Regions from separate parts of the Homo sapiens genome. Here region 1 is linked to region 2. Evidence: fine-mapped expression QTL. Tissue or cell type: whole blood. Region 2 holds a variant in brackets; the other region holds the start of a gene. All regions are shown on one strand. Distances are between the middles of the regions.

The links. PIP is the estimated chance that this variant, and not a neighbour inherited with it, causes the effect. A credible set is the group of variants that fine-mapping cannot tell apart.
Region 1: SEMA6A-AS1 starts here. The variant in region 2 is the best candidate, but not a certain one, in a credible set for the expression of SEMA6A-AS1 in whole blood (INTERVAL, PIP 0.56).

Annotation. Positions count from the first base shown.
Region 1 is chr5:116,446,424-116,449,217 of GRCh38, forward strand. SEMA6A-AS1 (SEMA6A antisense RNA 1) reads left to right here and starts at 1,075. Exons shown (of 3, transcript NR_109879.1): 1 at 1,075-1,368. It overlaps SEMA6A (semaphorin 6A), which reads right to left. Exons shown (of 19, transcript NM_020796.5): 19 at 1-1,388. The coding sequence ends at 190.
Region 2 is chr5:116,310,220-116,313,040 of GRCh38, forward strand. No RefSeq gene overlaps it. Among named protein-coding and RNA genes, the nearest start is that of MIR12130, 56 kb to the left of the region's middle. The variant G/A (reference allele first, on the strand shown) is at 1,481.

The sequences.
Region 1 (2,794 bases), 140 kb after region 2:
CCTTCACCAAACCACGCGGCCCAGTTTTCGTGAGTACCCCTGTGTCCCAGAGAGGAGGACCCAGCGTCCTCGGCTCTGCCGCAGGCCTTCTTGGTCTGGTGGGTACTCGAGGCAGTTGAGAACCTTGCTGAGCTGAGCGGGCACCTCGCCTTGCCTGCTGGTTCGACACCTGACCCCCTCCCCCTGGGATTATGTACACGCATCATTGGGCTTCATGGATGTGGAAAGGGGAGCAAAGGATGGTTTGGGGGGTACGTCCGGCTTTAGCGAGGGCGTACGCTTCAGCCCCGACCTTGTCAGTGAGTTGTAGGCGTTGAGGCTGGGCTGCCTCGAGACAGTCACGGCCTGGCCAGATGGCTGGGAGCTGTGCACCTGGATGGAGTCCACCCTCTGCGGGGCGGGCGGCGGGTTGTCTCCCCTGCCAAAGCTCTGGTTTCTGGAGAGGTGAGAGGAATTGGAGGAGTTAGTGTTGTTTCTTTTGAGAGTGGTGGCCTGGTGGCTTCTCGTGAGCGAGTTCGTGGGGTAGCTCCTCTTATAGTCAACCCCGTAGGAAGAGGAGTGGTGCATTTCCAGCCGCTTGCTTAGACCGGTCTGAGACAGGGAGGCTCCCGGGGGACCCAGGGAGGCCTCCCGCTGTGGAACTTTGGGGGGCAGGCTGTCCAGGTTCTCCACAAGGTTCACCCCATGGTTGGGACTCTTGCTGCTGAGATGTTCCTTGATGGTCTTATACTCCAGTGTGGCGGCCTGGTCCTCCAGCGCCATCTGGGCCACCTCGCTCATTTTGGGCTGGTCCACGTACTCATGCTGGTAGCCCTGCTGCGTGATGGGCAGGACCACCACGCTGGGGATGTGGCTGGGGGAGGCCCGCAGGGGCAGGTCCGTGGGAATCACAGGGGAGCCCATGGGGGGCATGTCCTTTGTGCAGGCATTGATGAGGTTCTGGTTCCTCTCCCACTCGCGGCTGCCGCGGCTGGGCTTCCGCTTCTGCTGCAGCGTTGGGGTTGACTCTGGGGTGGGGAGGGCCGTCAGGTCCAGGTGGTGCTGGTCTGCTTTAATGAGCATCTTGGCCGTGTTGCCGGGAGTGGCGAGCTTGCCGTTGTGCATGAGTGGCGTGAGGATGGCCTCCGGCTTTGGGTCTTTGGATTGAGTGTCCCCAAAGAGGCCGCTGAGCTTGGTGACGCTGCTCATGGAGCCCCGGCGCGAGTGGGTGAGCTCCTTCTCCTTGCGCTGCACCACAGCCACGTCTTTGCGCCGATGATCACAGACGCAGTAGACGGTGATGCCCGAGAAGACGGCCCCCATGACGAAAGCCAGGATGACTGCAATGGCCAAGAGGGTGACGGGAACCAGCTGGTCGTGGCCTTTGAGGTAACTTTCCCGAATCACTCCTGCAATAGACATCGCATATGGCGTTAAGAAATGAAAGCACACCCCGAGGCTTGTTTTTGCTTGGCATTCACCTTGTTAATTAATAACAGTAGTAAGTGACAACAGCACCTCTGCACAACTTGTCTTCCAAGCTCAGCTTGCCAAACATTAACCAATTAATCCTCCCCAAGCCCCTCGTGTGCAGTATGTAAATGGACTCCATTTGTAGCCTTCTTTGTTGTCTAAAAAAGTGCTGTTCAGGCCGGGCACGGTGACTCACGCCTGTAATCCCAGCACTTTGGGAGGCCGAGGCGGGTGGATCACGAGGTCAGGAGTTGAAGACCAGCCTGGCCAAGATGGTGAAACCCCCGTCTCTACTAAAAAAAAAAAAAAAAAAAAAAAAAATTAGCCAGGCGCGGTGGCGGGGGCTTGTGATCCTAGGTACTCCGGAGGCTGAGGTAGAGAATTGTTTGAACCTGGGAGGTGGAGGTTGCAGTGAAGGGAGATCAGGCCACTGTACTCCAGCCTGGGTGACAGAGCGAGACTCCGTTTCAAAAAAAGAAAGAAAGAAAAGTGCTGTTCACTCTTTCCAGTACCTGCACTTTCTACTCTGCTTCACTCCAGGGAATATGGGAGGTTTTGGCTTTCAAAAGTTATCTTTCTTTCCTTCTTTATGGCTTTTTAACCTTCCCTTCCTAGAACTGGGATAACCAAGTTATCCTGAGTCTGGAGGAAGAGGCAACAATTTTATGCATGTTAGACAAACAAATCACACACTCTGGGCTTCCAGTTGGGATCTTTTCCGACGGCCCCCTTGTGGCCACCGGAGCCTCCGTCTGGGGAAAAGTGTTTGCCTTTTAAGCAACTAGAGGAAAGAGAGTGTGTGTCATTTTTATTTACACTGAGAGAATATAGCTAAAGTTCACAGACTACAAATGTTTGTGCTGATTTTGCATCACCTCTCAAAAAAAAAAAAAAAAAAAAACAGTGCAAACTCAATTTCAGGTAACTATCCTGAATATTTGAATGAAGCTTTCTCACTGGAACTGAAAGAAGATTCAGAAATAAGACCATTTGGGGCCCTGTAGTGGGTTTGAGAAGTGTTAGGTACCATTATTGCACCTAGAGTTTGCTGTCACAGTGGGATTTTTCAGCAGAGCTAATCTCTTCAATTTAATAAAAATTATGTGACTACACCCATCCGTAATCTTACACTACATTAACCAGGATTCAGTGTTTCTGAAGGAAGGTGCTTTCGCTATTCCTGCTTAATCAGCCACCCAGCTGAGTGACTCTAATCAAATGCAAACACAGAAGCTTTTATTTTTTAATACCAAGTGAGAATACACATCACAGTTGTCAGATCTTAAGTGCTTGATGCAGTCGCTAAAAAATAAAATCTCTAATACCTCAATTCCTGCCTCTG
Region 2 (2,821 bases):
TCTATTTTTACTTTGGTTGCCTGTGCTTTTGAGGTCTTACACAAAAAAATCTTTGACTCAGCTCAATGTCCTGGAGCACTTCCCCTATGTTTTCTTACAGTAGTTTTATAATTTCAGGTCTTAGATTTATACCTTTATCCGTTTTGATTTTATTTTTATGTATAGTGAGAGATAGGGTCCAGTTTGATTCTTCTGCACCTAGTTATTCAGTTTTCTCAGCATCATTTACTGAAGAGATGTCCTTTTCCTATTTTGTTTTCCAGCTTTGTTCTCTTGCTGAGGATTGTTTTGGCTATTTGAGGTCTCTTGTGGCTCCATACCAATTTTTGGATTCTTTTTTCTGTTTCTGTGAAAAATGTCATTGGTATTTTAATAGGTATTGTATAGAATCTGTAAATGGCTTTGGGTAGTATTGCCATTTCAACAATACTCATTCTTCCAGTCCATGAACATAGGATATCTTTCCTTTTATTTGTCTTCTTCAGTTTCTTTCATTGGAGTTTTACAGTTTTCCTCATATAAATCTTTCACTTCTTTGGTTAAATTGACTTGAAGATATTTTATATTTTTTGTAACTATTGTAAATGGGATTACATTCTTCATTTCTTTTTCAGATTGTTAGCTTTTGGCATATATAAATGCTACTGACTTTTACATGTTGATTTTGTATCCTGCAACTGTACTGAATTTGTTTTTCAGCTCTAACAGTTTTCTAGTGGAGTCTTTAGGTTAATGAATGTACTTCTCTTGTTCTAGTCCTTAGAGGAGAGGCTTTTAATTTTTCCCTGTTTTGTATGATGTTGGCCATGGGTTTGTCACATATGGCCTTTGATATTTGAGGTATGTTTTCTGTACCCATTTTGATGAGGGGTTTTAAATTATTAAATGCTTTTCAAGCATCTATTAAAATAATTTGTCAGAGATGAGTTGGCTGTAGATGAATGGATATATATCTGGGCTCTCTATTCTTTTCCATTGGTCTATGTGTCTGTTTTTATGCCAATACCATGCTGTTTTGGTTACAAAATGTGGTACATTTTGATATCAAGTAGTATGATGTCTCCTTCCAGCTTTGTTGTTCTCTTGCTCAGGATTGTTTTGGCTATTCGAGGTCTCTTGTGGCTCCATACCAATTTTTGGATTTTTATTCTTGATTCTGTTCATGTGATATATCATGTTTCTGCATTTGTGTATGCTGAACCATGCTTGCATCCCTGATATTCATCATACTTGATCATGGCGAATAATCTTTTTAATGTGTTGTTGAATTTGGACAGGCAGTATTTCATTGAGAATTTTTACATCTGTGTTTTTCAGTTATATGGGCATGTAGTGTTCTTTTATCATTGTGTCCTTGTCTGGTTTTCATAGAATGAGTTTGCAAGTATTCCCTTCTCTTCAGTTTTTTTTTTTTTTTTTAAGACTTTAATAGAATTAGTATTGGTTCTTCTTTAAATGTTTGGTAGAATTCAGCAATGAA[G/A]CTGTTAAGTCCTGGGCCTTTCTTTAATAAAGACTTTTTACTATGGCTTTGATCTTATTACTCATTATTGGTTTGCTGAGATTTTACATTCCTTAATGGTTCAGTCTTGGTAGTTTGTATATGTTGAGTAGTATATCCATCTTCTAGGTTTTCCAATTTGTTGGCATGTAGTTGTTCATAACTGTTTCTAATGATTCCATTTCTTTTTTTTTTTTTTTTTTTTTTTTGAGATGGAGTCTTACTCTCCACCCAGGCTGGAGTGCAGTGGCTTGATCTTAGCTCACTGCAGCCTCTGCCTCTTGGGTTCAAGTGATTCTCCTGCCTCAGCCTCCCTCCCAAGTACCTGGGCCTGCAGGGGCCCACCACCACGCCCAGCTAATTTTTTTTTTTTTTAGTAGGGATGGGATTTCAACATGTTGACCAGGCTTGTCTCAAACTCCTGACCTCAGGTGATCCACCCACCTCGACCTCCCAAAGTGCTGAGATTATAGGCATGAGCCACCGTGCCCAGCCTTCTTTCTGTTTCTGAGGCCTCAATTATTATGTCTCCATTTTAGTTTCTGATTTTATTTATTTGTATCTTCTCTCATTTTTTCTTAGTCTGGGTAAAATTTGTCTATTTTGTTTATCTTTTTAAAAATCCATCTTTTTATTTTTTTGATCTTCTGTATTTTTAAATTTCTATTGCATTTATTTCTGCTCTGATCTTCTTTATTTCTTCTACTGATTTTGAATGTGGTTTGTTCTTGCTTTTCTAGTTTCTGAAGATTCATTATTATAATGTTTATTGAAGTATTTCTGCCTTGTTTTTGTTCTTGTTTTTTTGCCCAGAGTGGAGTGCAGTGGCATGATCACAACTCACTGCAGCCTCAACTTCCCAGGCTCAAATGATTCTCCCATCCCAGCCTCCTGAGTAGCTGGGACGACAGGTGTGCCCTACCATGCCCAGCTAATTTTTTATATTTTTTGTAGATATGGGGTTTTGCCATATTGCCCAGGCTGGTCTCAAATTTTTGGGCTCAAGCAATCCACCTGCCTTGTCCTCCCAAAGCACTGGAATTTACAGGCATGAGCCACCGTGCTTGGCCTCTTTCTGCTTTTATGATACAGCCATTTATCACTGTGAACTTCCCTCTTAGGACTGCTTTTGCTGGATCTCACAGATTTTGGTATTTTGTATTTCCATTTTCATGTGTTTTAAGAAACTTTTGATTTTCTTCATAATTTCTTTATTGATCCATTCGTAATTTGGGGGCATTTTGTTTAATTTCCATGTATTCATGTATTCTCCGAGGTTCCTTTTGTTATTGATTTCTAGTTTGATTTCATTATGTTCAGAAA